Regions from separate parts of the Homo sapiens genome. Here region 1 is linked to region 2. Evidence: fine-mapped expression QTL. Tissue or cell type: spinal cord. Region 2 holds a variant in brackets; the other region holds the start of a gene. All regions are shown on one strand. Distances are from middle to middle.

Region 1 (8,106 bases), 130 kb before region 2:
TAGTTTGAAAGATAATGTAAAGGCTTTCTAATTTGGTGGTTTGAAAGATAATGTAAAATGAATGTATAGTACAGCTAGAAATGAAATACTTTAATCCCTTTCACAGAACTGATATGAAATTGTTGTTTTATAGTATTTGTTACCTTTGAAGTTCCCCAGAAGGAAAACTATTTTGCCTGGCACAAGATACATATTAAGTTTCTCTGAAAGATGAACAAAAATAACTAATATCAAAATCAAATTTCAACTCAAAAGGTTCTAAAAGTAGCTCGATTCTTTCCAGTCCTTCATTAGACTTGGAAGAAATTTGAATATTTTATCTACTATGAAATATTCTTGTGGATGTGTGTGTGTTTCAGTATCAGATGCTATTAGAGTTCCAGGATTTCTTTTCCATATCACCTAGATTTCACTCTGGATTATTTATTTCCTTATTTAAAAAGTCAAAGGTTTGACATTAAATGGTATATAATTTCCAGTGCTGTTTTCAAATTTTGTTAAGACACAGCCAAGTTTATCTTTCCTGCAGAGAAGGCTTTAAAATAAGCAATATTTCACTGCATCCATATGATGGCTTATCTAATGGGGGAGGAGGCTATCCGGGAGGAATCTGGCAGTGTTCTTTCAGAAATAAAAATGTATGAAATACAGAGGAGACTTTTGAAACTCCCAGCCTCTGCATGCAGCACATTTCTTTATTTGCTTTATATGCAATCACTGGATCGGCTTGTTTTTACCTTTTTAGCATTTATACACATTAAATCCTAGCTAACTTATTCATTATAGCCTCTACTCCCTAGCCCCCTTTAAAGACATTCATTTAAATGAACTGCGCTCACTGGGAAGCTGCATTTTCCTATCAAGGCTGCTGAATTATTTAGCAGCTTTATTGTGCAATCGGGGTATTTGATAAGAAGCGTTTTCGAGTTGGGCACACGATGTGGATTCGATTCTTCTAACAACGTGGTTGTGGCGCAGTCTCTCCCCTCGTCGCGGGATTCAGAATCCTGGCGAAAACCCGAACAGGTGGCAACGCTCAGCAGTCAAATTTGGAGCCGAAGGCCCCAAGGAGGAGGCCTGGAAATGTCAGGGCCTGTTCTCCTTCCCATCAGTGCTGTGCCGCCCACCTCTGGCCCCGAGGTGCGGGGACGTGCGGCACCATACCTAGGCGGAGCTCCCGCAGGAGGCGCAGCAGGAGGGAAGCGCCACTGCAGTCCCCTCTCGCCTGGGAGGGCAGCCTGGTTTCTCCCTGTGGCCATCTTAAAGCCACCACCTCTGTGCCTCTCGCCACCTGCCTTCAGGGTTCCAGCAGCAGGGAGCCACCATCTGCTCTGGCGAGGGAGCTGAAGCTCACCCACCCAACTTCTCCGGGCTGGCTGCCGCTGGTAAGCTGCTCTAGGTGAGGCACTTGGGGAAGTATTACCTGTGGAGAGCCAGGATAGGCATTGCCAGGGCTGGCACCTGAGGGTGGACAGCATCTGAAGAGAGGCAAGTGGGAACTTGGTTTTCCCAAACTCTTGAAACTCCTTGTCAAGTGAGCAGACAGTTGTTTGGGACAATTGGAAAGTGTCACCCCTTGCCCATCCTCTGCTGTGCCTAATCGCCTGCCACTTTGCAGCCCTTGGAGGGCAGGGAGAGGGATTGTGGACTGGGCGCCCCTCCGCCTTCTCTGGAGAAGGCCATTCTGTTAGGGAACTGCTCACCCTTATTCTCCTCTCCCTGTTCCTCTCATCTGCTCTCATCTCTACATCAGTCAGAGGTTGAAACTCCTCGCCACAGTCCACTCTCCATCTCCATCCCTACCCCATCAATAAGCCCTTCCCCCACCATCTCAAGACACTGGAATGCAGGTAGGGAGAGGCCCCCAGAGGGAGTATTTGAGAATTTGCTCCCCTGTCCCTTGCCTCAACTACTCTCAGTTGCATCTTAATTCCTAGAATTACTTCCTCTTCCCTCCACTCCTGGAGTCCTCTTTCTACCTTCAGTATAAGGTCAGGCAAACATTTTGGGGGGCCCTGGGATGTGTGTGACAGTAGAACGGTCTTGATTCCTTGCTAAAATGGCTTCCCAAGTCAGTAGGGACCAGGACAGAGAAGGGAGAGTAAGTAAACAGGTCTATGGCATTTTCTGCTGAGTGTTTGCCCAGCACAGCCCCCAAATTGACCAGCAGTGTCCTGTTTGCATGACAGCTTAGAGGTGGTCTCTGCAGTGACTCACCTCCCTTTCTCTTTTCTTCCTTCTCTTTACCTCAAAGGCCAGGTTTCTAAGCATTGTAAGTACCCAACATAGCAAGGGGATAGGATTGCAGGAGGTAGTTTCTTAAATGTGGGGTGGGAGAAACATTTTTGTCCTTTGAAGCCCCATGGCACCTTGTCAAGGAGCAAGGAACACACTTTTGCTTGGGAGGCCCGGACACAGGCACAAGACTGCAATTATAGAGGATAAACGAAAAACTGTTCTCTTAGGCTAAGCTCTCTTATGGATGGTAAAAAGCCGTTTTCTTCTCCTGAGTGCCCTGCCTAGCCTGGCATTCTTTTCCTTCCATGTCTGAGGGGGTTTACCCTCAGACAGGTTCTCCTTCCCCTCTGCAGCCCTGGTTGTCTTCATTCTTCAAGGGCCACTTTACAGGGACATGGAACAGGCTCCACTAAAGTGGTGTCCTCTTATTGCTCTTGGCCCTGAGGACATATGAAGATTGTGAAAGTCAGAGATCCTCTCTTCCCTTGGTTTTCATGGGAGACAGTAGAGAGCTGAGGGTTCCCCAGTTGTTCAGCTGTGGGATCCAACTGGCCCGGGCTGTACCCAAGGGGCACTGCCACAGTGCACCACTAACATCTCTTTTCTGGATCCTTTTGAGGCAGATTCTGTTTAGAGGGGTCTAGGTCTCTACAGGCAACCTCCAACAGATACCATAAGAATAGACCACTTTGTAGTCACACTTATCATCCCTTATTGCAGTTTCTGTTTACATGTTTGTCTACCCTCCTAGGCTGATTACCGTGGGGGGGAGAATCCAACTTACTTATCTTGTATCTTATCTAGCAGTGCCTGCCACATAGTGGGCAGTCAGGGAATGCTTGATGAAGGAAAGAGGATGTAAAGCGATTGTGTCTTTCCGTGTGCGGGGTGCAATTACATTTATACTATTAAGTCTTTATATTTTGAGTCTGTCCCTCTAACGGTAGACCTGTATTTTTCTGCATTTGTGCACCTGCTTAAGCTGCCTGAGCATGCCCTCATCTCTGAACAGCAAAGATAATCAATACCGAGGGGTATGCAGTGGAGTAATCCACACCCCACCCCCTTTCCCTTGCTCAGGCAAGGGTACTTAGAGACGCTACTGAAACTATCTTTAGCCACAGCGATTCCTAAGTATTCCCATTAAGAAAGACGCCAGCAGTCCGCCACACACTTACACGTGCATATCCCTGACATAGGATTCCCAAATCCTGGCCGCTGAAGGGCGGGAGGCGTGTGCCCGGCCTCAGACTACTATAAATTGCGAAATGACAAACCTGCTTTGGGTCCCAGTCTCTGCGTGCCCGAGTGCGCACCCGCGATTCGAGCAGCTTAAGCCCTACTCCCTCCTCCTTCCCAAATCAGCCACCGTGGGCCACGGCTACGCTATGCTTTATTCCTAAGCGAATCTCGCACAAATCTCGAGGCATATTTTGTACAAGGGGACACTGGCCGCGCGCATCGCAATCGCATCTCAGCGACAGAAGCGGTCACGTGCCTTGGCGCGCTTCCGCACCGCCCCTTCCCGCGCACTCGCACGCGCACGCGCACACGCGCCCATACGGCTCCAATCCCTTCAACCTTCTGCGCGCTTCCGCCTTCATGCTAGCAACGCCCGCAGTGACGCGCAGGCCCCGCCCCCTCCCGCGCGCCTCCCGGAAGTGGCCGGTCCAGAGCTGTGGGGTGGCCTCCGCGCGGTCTCTGGCGGAGTCGGGGAATCGGATCAAGGCGAGAGGATCCGGCAGGGAAGGAGCTTCGGGGCCGGGGGTTGGGCCGCACATTTACGTGCGCGAAGCGGAGTGGACCGGGAGCTGGTGACGATGGCGGGGCCGCAGCCCCTGGCGCTGCAACTGGAACAGTTGTTGAACCCGCGACCAAGCGAGGCGGACCCTGAAGCGGACCCCGAGGAAGGTGAGGCCGGACTGGGGCAGGCCACGTGCGGAGCGGTGGGCCAGGCCCTGTGGGGCAAGGGGGCGGCGTGGGAGGGGCGTGCGCGAGGCCGCCGGGCCTGCGCTCCTTCGCTTGGCGCAGAGGAACGTCGCCTCCCGCGAGGGTGGTCCCGGCCTCGGGAGGAGGGCTTCGGCTTCTTTTCACACGCACTCGAAACTTGGTGCTCGGCTGGATGGGCGGAACAGATCGAGGGCTCAGGCCGAGAGGAGCTGGTCTTCAGGTTTACTTGCTCCAGGCCTGTTGGAGGGAGCCAGAGAGTCTGCTAGCAAGTTGGAAGTTAGCTTTGAGGATGCCCTTTCTGGTATTGCGTTAGAAAGGAGGAGAAGAAAGTCGCATGTTTTTAATTCAGGTTGCCCTTCAAAACTAAGTTGGAGACTGATGGAAGGATTTTCTGGTGCTGTTTAAGTCTCTTGAAGTCTCAAGACACTTGTTCAGTGGCTGACGACTGAGACTCCTGTTCTGTAAGCTGATGTTCAGAGTCTAGCTGGGAGTAATCCCGCTTTAGACTTGAGTCGGAAGTGTGAGAAAGGGATAATAAGGAGGGATAAATGCGAGTGCTGAACCGTATCTTAGGAAGATCAGTTGAAGAAACTCGGGACTGTTTAGCCAGAATAAGCAAAGAAAACTCCCCAAAGAATGGGACAGAGTGAGGGGAGAACGTGATGACTGATTTAAGATATTGGAGCGACTGTCACACATTGAAGAGGAATTCAACTAGTTTGATAGGATCCAAGTCATAGAAATAGATCCCACTAGTAGATGCCAGGAGTCAACTTTCTGTTTAGAAACAGCAGTAAGACAGTGTTCTACTTTGGGAGAGAGTGAATTTCCTATTCCTGGAAGTTGGTGGGGATTTCGTAAAGGACGTTCAACTATGAGATAAATGGGTCGACCAGGGTTCCCGTTAAAGTTTCTGCTAACCTGGAGATTCTGTTTACTTTTCCCTCTCCCCCGACAGCCACTGCTGCCAGGGTGATTGACAGGTTTGATGAAGGGGAAGATGGGGAAGGTGATTTCCTAGTAGTGGGTAGCATTAGAAAACTGGCATCAGCCTCCCTCTTGGACACGGACAAAAGGTATTGCGGCAAAACCACCTCTAGAAAAGCATGGAATGAAGACCATTGGGAGCAGACTCTGCCAGGATCGTCTGGTGAGTAGACATTTTTGAATGGAACTCTTCTCTTCCCTAATTTTTTCAGGGTTAAAATCCTCCGGTCATCCCCCATGATCTTTGCAAGAGTAGTCTGCGGATCTTTTTTTTGAGACAGAGTTTGGCTCTTGTTGCCCAGGCTGGAGTGTGATGGCGCCATCTCGGCTCACCGCAACCTCCACCTCTGGAGTTCAAGCGAGGCTCCTGCCTCAGCCTCCCGAGTAGCTGGGATTACAGGCATGCACCACCACGCCCGGCTAATTTTGTATTTTTAGTAGAGACGGGGTTTGTCCATGTTGGTCAGGCACCCCTATCTGTTATCTTAGGAGAGACCATTGATTTGGTATTAGAAAGGGTCTTAGAGGTTACTTCATTTCACTTCATAAGGAATCTAAAGCCCAGAGTGATTAAGTTGCTATACTCCTTATGTTCGGACTAATGGCTCACCCTACAGTGGAGTGACAGAGAAGGCAGTGCATTTTGGCTACTGGAGAGGGTTATGAGCTGAAAAACCACTGTGTCTGATGAACATGTTATCCTTGAATTGTGACCCCTGACCTTTGGTTTTCCAGGACTTGCATTGAAGCACTGTGTGATATTAGTTATTTGTGAAACTCATTTTTTGCCATTCTAAAAAATCACATAATCCTTCTCTTCCCTGCAAAAGAGTTAGGAGTCTGTGCGCTTATAGTTTTAAAGAATTGTAAATTTCTCAGAGTGGAAGAAGGGGCTAGATATGGTGATTATTGGGAGAATGTCATTTGTTTTCCTTTAGAAAGGTCAGGGGTGTCATGTTGAGAATCCACAGATAATATAAAAGGAACTATCATTTAGGTTATGATATCTATGATTTAGTCCTTGATGTAGTTCTGGGAGCTCCTGATAAGCTCATTTCATATTCTTTGCCTAGAGACTGATAAAGGGACCAATCATGAGACAAATATGATAATATTTATTGAGTTCTTACCATGCGTCAGGCACTGAGTTTAGCTCTATAATTTAAGTTCTAAGAGCCTGGGACACAGTAAGTCCTCAAAAAAAAAATTATAAAATTACCTGGAATTAGACAGATTTTTATAAAAAATTATCACCATTATCACTACATGTGTCACCTAATTTAATCCTCCCAATTGCGCAGGAAGTTATTACTACTTAGCCCCATTTTACAGATAAGGAAATCGAGGGGCAAATTGGTTACATAAGTTTGCTCAAGGTCATATAGTTAGTAAGTGGAAGAAACATGATTCAAATGTAGGCTGTCTGACTCCAAGATGTACACTCTAGTAAACTCTGTATGAATGTTTCTTAATCTGAGAAATGGCGTACATTCAAAGAATTTAAATAATAATTTCTGTTTACTGTTTTGGCACTTAGTTTTTGTATTTATATTTTTGGCAGCTTTGTGTCTTAAGTTTATATATACCTTTTTAAAGAAGCGCTGAAGACCTGTCACGCTTTCCTAAAATCTTTATTTTATTGAAGAAAGTTTTTGGAAACTGGTCCCTCTATCTTAGAATCATACTTGAAACACATGGGGCTTTTATGTTCTACCATGGAACAGATTGGATAAACTGTAAAAACCTCTACATATCAGATGATACTCTAAGCATAAGTCAAACAAAGAGCCTTAACTAGCACTCTGTCTACTATAGGATCAAGTTCAGAGTCCTCATGAAAGACGAGACCTTTCCTGATTAGTCTCATCTCCCATCACTTCCTTGTGCATCCTGCACTCCAGTGCGTTTTCCCTTCATTATCTATGAGCTGTTGCCTTATGCTTCATAAGTAAAATTATAATGTCTCCTTCTCCACATGATACCATCCCCCACCTTTCCAGGAGAGTTAGGTGGTTCCATCTCCATACACTGTGTACTAATGACCTTGTAATATAATTATTGGCATGCATATCTACCACTCCCACCAGACCATGAACTCCTCCCAGCAAGTATTAAATTCTATTTGCCTTTCCTTAGCCCCTGGCTCATAATGAGTGCTTAATAAGTATTTAGTAAATAGGGCAGACGGATGTGATAGATTGTACATTTTTTCAGATCAGGTTTGGGAAAACTGGTAATTCTCTAACACCAGTTGAAATCTTACTGTTCTTCAAGGGCCAGAGCAAATGCTAGCTCTTCCTTAGAGATTAGCTTAAATTCACTTGCCCCACAGTTAAAATTTCTCACTCTTCTGGGTTATTGAAATTTTGTCAAAGCACTTCTGATGCTTCCTTGAGTTGTAATGTTGTGAGTCTGTCTTTCCCACTAGCTCCTTTTGTTAGGGTAGGACCCGTGTTCTATTCATCTTTGCTTCTCCCTTAGCATTTTGGAGATTGTAGATGTGTAATAAATATATTGTTGAATTGAGTGCAGTAAGAGATTTTCCCCCTGATGCCACAGTGCTTAAGTTGAAATGAAGTCTATGGCTTGGTATTTTCTCCAGGTAATACCCATTTTTCTCTTTCTTCCCTCTCTTCTTTGTAGATGAGGAAATATCTGATGAGGAAGGGTCTGGAGATGAAGATTCAGAGGGACTGGGTCTGGAGGAATATGATGAGGACGACCTGGGTGCTGCTGAGGAACAGGAGTGTGGTGATCACAGGGAGAGCAAGAAGAGCAGAAGCCACTCTGCAAAAACACCGGGCTTCAGTGTCCAGAGTATCAGTGACTTTGAGAAATTTACCAAGGGAATGGATGACCTTGGGAGCAGTGAGGAGGAGGAAGACGAAGAGAGTGGCATGGAAGAAGGGGATGACGCGGAAGACTCCCAAG
Region 2 (8,106 bases):
CCTGCTGGGAGGTGGAGGGGGTCGAGAGGAGGGAATTTAGAGGGCAGGTCAATAGGTGCAGCAAACCACCATGGCACAGGTATACCTATGTAACAAACCTGCACATTCTGCACACGTATCCTGTTTTTTTTTTTTAGAAGAAATAAAATTTATATATAATATAAATATATATATACTTATATACTTATATATTGCTAGGATAGGCACAGTGGCTCACGCCTATAATCCCAGCACTTTGAGAGGCCAAGATGGGTGGATCACTTGAGGTCAGGAGTTCGAGACCAGCCTGACCAACATGGTGAAACCCCATATCTACTGAAAAATACAAAAATTAGCTGGGTGTGGTGGTGCGCACCCAGATGGTGGGAGGCTTAAGTGGGAGGATTGTTTGAACCTGGGGGTGGAGGTTGCAGTGAGCTGTGATCATGCCACTGCACTCCAGCCTGGATGACAGAGTGAGAACCTCATCTCAAAAAAAAAAAAAAAAAAGTGTGGGTGTGTCTTGCTGTATTCAGTTTGCTAATTCTTTTTTTAAAGAGATGGAGTCTTGCCACGTTGCCCAGGCTGGGGTGCAGTGGCTATTTAAGGATATGCTCATGGCATACTACAGCCTCAAAATCCTGGGCTCAAACAGTCCTCCTGCCTCAGCTGCCCAAATAGCTGGGACTACATGCACGCCACTGTACCTGGCCCAGTTAGTTAATATTTGCTAAGGATTTTTGCATCCTGTGTTCACAAGGGATACTGGCCTGTAGTTTTCTTGTGATGTCTTTGGCTTTGGTATCAGATAATACTGGCCTTGTAGAATGAGTTGGAAAGTGTTCCTTCTGTTTTCTAAGAGAGTTTGAGAAGGACCAGTATTATTTCTTTTTTTTTTTTTTTTTTTTCAAGATGAAGTCTTGCTCTGTCACCCAGGCTGGAGTGCAGTGGCGTGATCTCAGCTCACTACAACCTCCACCTCCCGGGTTCAAGCAATTCTCCTGCCTCAGTCTCCCAAGTAGCTGGGATTACAGGCACCCACCACCACACCCGGCTAATTTTTGTATTTTTTGTAGAGACAGGGTTTCCCCTTGTTGGCCAGGCTGGTCTCGAACTCCTAACCTCGTGATCCGCCCTCCTTGGCCTCCCAAAGTGCTGGGATTACAGGCGTGAGCCACTGCACCTGGCTGTTATTTCTTCTTTAAATATTTGACAGAGCATTTACCAGTGAAGCTTTCTGGGACTGGGGCTTTACTTTGTGGGAATTTTTTTTTTTTTTTTAAGACTGAGTCTCACTTTCTTGCCCAGGCTGGATTGCAGTGGCATGATCTCGGCTCATCACAACCTCTGCCTCCCGGGTTTAAGCCATTCTCCCGCCTGAGCCTCCCAAGTAACTGGGATTACTGTTGTGCACCAACACACCTGGCTAATTTTTGTATTTTTAGCAGAGACGGGGATTCACCATGTTGGCCAGGCTGGTCTTGAACTCCTGACCTCAGGTGATTCCCCCACCTCAGCCTCCCAATGTGCTGGGATTACAGGTGTGAACCACCGTGCCTGGCCTGTGGGAGGATTTTTAGTGACTAATTTCTTTATTTGTTATAGGTCTATTTGGATTGTGTGTTTCTTCTCAAGTCAGTTTTGGTAAATTTGGGTCTTTCTAGGAATGTGTTCATTTTACCTAAGTCTAATTTCTTGGCATAAAGTTGCTCATAATATTTCTTTATAATCTTAATTTTGGTAGAGCCACTAGCAATGTCCCCTCTTTGATTCCTGATTTTGGAAATTTGTGTTGTTTCTCTTTTTCTTCTTGTCAATTTTATTGTTTTTTTCTTTTCTTTTCTTTTTTTTTTTTTTTTAGATGGAGTCTTACTCTGTCCCCAGGCTGGATGGAATACAGTGGTGCGATCTCGGCTCATTGCAACCTCCGCCTCCCGGGTTCAAGTGATTCTCCTGCCTTAGCCTCCCGAGTAGCTGGGATTACAGGCGCCCACCAACATGCCTAGCTAATTTTTCTATTTTTAGTAGAGACGGGGTTTCACCATGTTGGCCAGGATGGTCTCGATCTCTTGACCTCGTGATCCACCCACCTCGGCCTCCCAAAGTGCTGGGATTACAAGTGTGAGCCACTGGGCCCAGCCTGATTTTTTTCAAAGAGCTAACTTTAAGTTTCTATTGACTTTTCTCTGTTGTTTACTGTTTTCTCTTTCACTAGTTTCCACTCTGACCTTTATGTTTTCCCTTATTCTTCTTGCTTTGGGTTTAGTTTATTCTCCTCTTTTTTCTTCTCTGTTTTTTTGGGGTGGAAGTTTATTGATCCAGATCCAGACCTGTTGTCTATTTCTCCTTTTTATTCTGTCAATTTTTGCTTTCTGTATTTTGGGGCTCTGTTGTTAAACATGTATACATTTATAATTGTTATAGCTTCCTGACAAACTGATTCTTTTAGCATAATAAATGTTTATTTTTGTCTCTAATGACATTATATATATACATATAGATAGATATAGATATTGATATTGATATTAATGTAGCCACTCCAACCCTTATGGTTACTGTTTGCATAGTAGATGGTGTTTTTATACCTTTACCCACTTGTGTCTTTGAATCTAAAGTGTTTTTCTTAAAGACTTAAGACCCAGCCTCCACAAAATTAAAAAAATTAGCCAGGTATGGTGGTACACACCTGTAGTTCCAGCTACTCGGGAGGCTGAGGCAGGAGTAACAGGCATTTTGTTTGTTTTTTTAAAATTTTAATTATTATTTTTGAGACAGGGTCTCACTCTGTCACTCAGGCTAGAGTGCAGTGGTGTGATTTAGGCTCACTGCAGCCTCAGCCTCCAGGGCTTGGGTGATTGTCCCTCCTCAGCCTCCCGAGTAGCTGGGACTACAGGTGCATGCCACCATGCCTGGCTAATTTTTTGTATTTTAATTTTTTGCAGAGACGAGGTCTCCCTATGTTGCCCAGGCTGGTCTCAAACTCCTGGACTCAAGCAATCTGCCTGTCTCAGCCTCCCAAAGTGCTGGGATTACAGGCAAGAGCCACCACACCCAGCCTAGATTTTTTCACCTAATCTGACAGTCTATCTTTTGATTGGAGTGTTTAGTCCTTTCAAATTTAATGTAATTATTAATAAGGTTCATTTGTTTTTCCTTTACTGCTTGCTTTTGTGTTTTTTAGAGACAAGGTCTTACCCTATCCTGCAGGCTGGAGAGCAGTGATGCGATTACAGCTCACTGCAGCCTTGAACTCCTGGGCTCAAGAGATCCTCCTGAGTAGCTGGGACTACAGGTGTATGCCACCACGCCTGGCTATTTTTTTTTTTTTAATTTTTCTGGAGACTGGGTCTCACTTTGTTGCTCAGGCTGGTCTCAAACTTCTGGCTTCAAGAATGCTGGGGTTACAGATGTGTGCCACCACACCCAGCCCCAGTGTTGTTTTTAATATATATATATTTACATACATACATGTTAAATTGTGGCTAAGAAAACATAAAACTTACCATCTTAACCATGTTTAAGTGTACAATGCAATAGTGTTAAGTATATTTACATTGTCCTGCAACAGATTTCCAGAAATTCTTACCCCACAAAACTGAAACTTTATACCCATTTAACAATTCCCAGTTTACCCCTCACTCCGACCCCTGGCAACCACCATTCTTTCAGTTTCTATGAATTTGACTACTTTATTTTTTATTTATTTATTTTTTTGAGACAGAGTTTCTGTCACCAGACTGGAGTGCGGTGATGCGATCTCGGCTCACTGCAACCTCCACGTCCCGGGTTCAAGCGATTCTCCTGCCTCAGCTTCCCGAGTAGCTGGGATTACAGGCATGCACCACCATGCTCAGCTAACATTTGTATTTTTAGTAGAGATGGGGTTTCACCATGTTGGCCAGGCTGGTCTCAATCTCTTGACCACAAGTGATCCACCCACCTTGGCCTCCCAAAGTGCTGGGATTACAGGCATGAGCCACTGCACCCAGCAAAATTCGACTACTTTAAATACCTCATATAAGTGGAATCCTACAGTATTTGTCTTTTTGCAACTGGCTTATTCCACTTAACAGAATGTCCTCAAGGTTTATTCCTGTTCTAGCATGTGATTGGATTGCTTTCCTTTTTAAGGCCGTTGTAATATTCCATTGTAAGTATAGACCACATTTTGTTTATCAATTTATTCTTTGATGGACATTTGGGTGGCTTTCACCTCTTGGCTATTGTGAATAATGCTGCTGTGAACATGGGTGTGCAAATATATATTCAAGGCCCTGCTTTCAATTCTTTTGGATATCTGCCCAGAAGTGAGATTGCTTGATCATACGTAGTGCTTTTTTTTTTTTTTTTTTTTTTTTTTTTGAGACAGGGTCTCACTCTGTTGCCCAGGCTAGAGCGTAGTGGCTTGATCATAGCTCACTGCAACTTCAAACTCCTGGGCTTAAGCAGTCCTCCCACCTCAGCCTCCTATTTTTCATTTTCGTTTCGTTTTTGTTTTTTTTTGAGGCAGTCTCGCTGTGTTGCCCAGACTCAAGCAGTCCTCTCACCTCAGCTGCCCAAGTAGCTGGGACTACAGCCACGTGCCATCACCCAGCTAATTTTTTATTTTTTAATTTTTTATACAGATGAGGGTCTCA[C/T]TGTGTTGCCCAAGCTGGTCTCGAACTCCTGGGCACCTTAGCCTCTCAAAGTGTTGGGATTACAGGTGTGAGCCACCACACCCGGCCCTACTTTTAATTTTTTGAGGAACCATTTTTGCATAGCAGCTACACCATTTTCTATTCCTGCCAACAGTGCACAAGGGTTCTAATTTTTCCACATCGTCTGCAACATGTTATTTTCTGTTTGTTTTTTATAGCAGACGTCCTAATGGGTATGAAGTGTTGTGTCGTTGCGGTTTTAATATACATTTCCCCAACAATTAATGATGCTGAGCATGTTTTTATATGCTTCTTGACCATTCATAAATCATCTTTGAAAAAATGGGTTTAAGCCCTTTGCCTTTTGTTGTTGAGACAGGGTCTTGCTCTGTTGCCCAGGCTAGAGTGCGGTGGTGCGATCTCAGCTCACTGCAACCTCAACCTCCTGAGCCAGTGCTCCTCCTGCCTCAGCCTCTCAAGTAGCTGGAACTAGAGGCATGTGCCACCATGCCTGGCCAATTTTAAAAAAATTTTTTGTAGAGATAGTGTCTCACTGTATTGCCCAGCCTGGTCTCAAACTCCTGGACTCATGTGATCCTCCCACCTCAGCCTCCCAAAGTGCTGGGATTAGAGGTGTGAGCCACTGCTGCCAGCCTTACTATGCATTTTAAAGTTATTTTCAGCTGGGTGCGGTGGCTCATGCCTCTAATCCCAGCACTTTGGGAGGCCGAGGCAGGTGCATCACCTGAGGTCAGGAGTTTGAGAGCAGCCTGGCCAACATGGTGAGACCCTGTCTCTACCAAAAATACAAAAATTAGCCGGGCATGGTGGTGGGCGCCTATAATCCCAGCTACTCAGGAGGCTGAGGCAGGAGAACTGCTTGAACCCGGGACGCGGAGGTTGCAATGAGCCGAGATTGCATCATTGCACTCCAGTCTGGATGACAGAGCAAGACTCCATCTCTAAATAAATAAAGTTACTTTCTTAGTGGTTGTTCTAGAGGTTATATAACACTATACTTGAGATTAATATTACCTTAATACTGGCAACACATAGACTTGGTTTTCATGTTGTTTCATTTTTACCCCCTTCTTTGTGTGACTGTCATACATATTACGGTTCTATATGCTATAAACCCCAAAATACAGTGGTATACTTATTGTTTAATGCAACTTTATGTCTTTTAATGAAGTTAAAGAGAACACAGTTTTTTATATTTACCTAGGTACTGTTTACCTTTTCATTTCTTTGAGTAGATTTGAATTACTATCTGGAATTATTTCTTTTCAGCCTCAACTATTGCTTTTAGTATTTCTTATAAAGCTGGTCTGCTAACAATGAATTCTCTTTTTTTGTGGAGTGTCTTTATTTCACCTGTACTTGTTTTAAGGACAGTGTTGCTGGATATAGGATTCTTGTTTGACAGCATTTTTTTTCTTCTTGTGGCACTCTGACAATACTGCCCCACTGCCTCCTGGGGTCCATTGTTTCTGATTAGAAGGCAGCTGTGATTTATTTTGTTATTCTTCTGTAAGTGATAACTTGTTCTTCTCTAGCTTCCTTTAAGATTTTTCTTTGTCTTTCAACAGTTTGGCCATGAGGTATCTAGGTGTAAGTATCTTTGTTTATCCTACTTGGGGTTTATTGAGCTTCTTGGATCTGCAGATTCATGTTTTCCATCAAATTTGGGAATTTTTCGGCCACTATTTCTTCAGATAGTTTTTCCATTTCTCTCTCTTCTGGCACCCCCAGTACACATATGTTGGTAAACGCACTGTTGCTGCACAGGAGTCTGAGGGTCTATTCATTTTTCACTCTTTTTTCCTCTCTGTTCTTCACATTGGATAATTCTATTACTCTACGATTTCACATGCACTGATTCTTCTGTCTTCCCAAATCTGTGTAGTCCCTCTGGTCAACTTTTCAGAATTTCCTTTTCAAAAACTGGGATAAATATATGATTTACCATTTTAACAGTTTCTAAGTGTATAGTTCAGTGACATTAAGGACATTCACATTGTTGTGCAACCATCACCACCATCCACCTCCAGAACATTTCATCATCCCATACTGAAACTCTGTACTCATTCAACAACAATAACTCCCAGCTGCTACAGTGGCTCATGCCTATAATTCCAGTGCTTTGGGAGGCTGAAGAAGGAAGATCGCTTGAGCCCAGGAGTTCAAGATCAGCTTGGGCAACACAGTGAGGCCCTGTCTCTACAAAAAAAAAAAAAAAAAAAAAATTTTTTTTTAAATTAGCTGGGTATAGTGGCTTGCACCTGTAGTCCCAGCTATTCAGGAGGCTGAGGTGGGAGGACTGCTTGAGCCCAGGAGTTTGAGGCTGTAGTGAGCTATGATCATACCACTGTACTCCAGCCTGGGCAATAGAGCGAGACCCTGTCTCTAAAAACGAAAACAGTAATCCCCAAATTCCTCTCCCCACAACCCCTGGTAATCACTGTTTTATTTTCTGTCTCTGTGAATTTGATAATTTCAGATACCACATATAAGTGGAATCAAACAATATCTGTTTTTGTGTCTGGCTTATTTCACTTAGCATAATGTCTTCACAGTTCATCCATGTTGCAGCATGTTTCAGAATTTTATTCAGAATGTGCTTTTTTATGTTTTGTTTTGAGACAGGGTCTTGCTCTGTCACCCAGGTTGGAGTGCAGTGGCGTGATCATGGTTCACTGCAGCCTCTACCTGCCTGGGCTCAGGTCATCCTTCCACCTCAGCCTCCCAAGTTGCTGGGACGACAAGCGTGTGCCACCACACCTGGCTAGTTTTTTTTTTTTTTTGCATTTTTTGTAGAGATGGAGTTTTGTCATGTTGTCCAGGCTGGTCTTAAACTCTTGGACTCAAGCGAACCGCCCACCCTGGCCTCCCAAATTGCTGGGGATCATAGGTGTGAGCCACCATGCCTGGCCAATTCTTTTTTTTTTTTTTTTTTTTTAAATAAGGGCCCAAGGTTGTCCTACCTGACCCTTTAATTCTGTAAATGTGTGTGTGTGTATGTGTGTTTAAGTTTCTGCCCAGTTGTTTTTATTTGTTTGTTTTTTGAGACAGAATCTCATTCTGTCACCCAGGCTGGAGTGCAGTGGCACGATCTTGGCTCACTGCAACCTCTACCTCCCGGGTTCAAGCGATTCTCCTGCCTTAGCCTCCCAAGCAGCTGGGATTACAGGCGCACACCACCACACCCAGCTAATTTATTTTTAGTAGAGACGGTTTCACCATGTTGGCCAGGCTGGTCTCAAACTCCTGACCTCAAGTGATCCACCCGCCTCAGCCTCCCCAAGTGCAGGAATTGAGCCACCACACCGAGCCTCTGCTCAGTTTTTCTTTTTAAAACTTCTTATTTTTTAAGCCTAGCTTCATAGGGGCCACCCTTGTGCCTAATGGTCAGCCAATGCTTTAGGCAGATGTATCTTGAGCCAGCAAGGCATCTATCTTCTGCTGATAAGTTGGTGTGTGTGTGTGTGTG

The links. PIP is the estimated chance that this variant, and not a neighbour inherited with it, causes the effect.
Region 1: AATF starts here. The variant in region 2 is fine-mapped to the expression of AATF in spinal cord (GTEx, PIP above 0.99). The same link has a PIP of 0.9 or more in amygdala, hippocampus and substantia nigra.

What each region holds. Positions count from the first base shown.
Region 1 is chr17:36,945,068-36,953,173 of GRCh38, forward strand. It overlaps AATF (apoptosis antagonizing transcription factor), which reads left to right and starts at 3,887. Exons shown (of 12, transcript NM_012138.4): 1 at 3,887-4,149; 2 at 5,147-5,338; 3 at 7,819-8,106. The coding sequence starts at 4,059.
Region 2 is chr17:37,073,235-37,081,340 of GRCh38, forward strand. No RefSeq gene overlaps it. Among named protein-coding and RNA genes, the nearest start is that of MIR2909, 44 kb to the left of the region's middle. The variant C/T (reference allele first, on the strand shown) is at 4,617.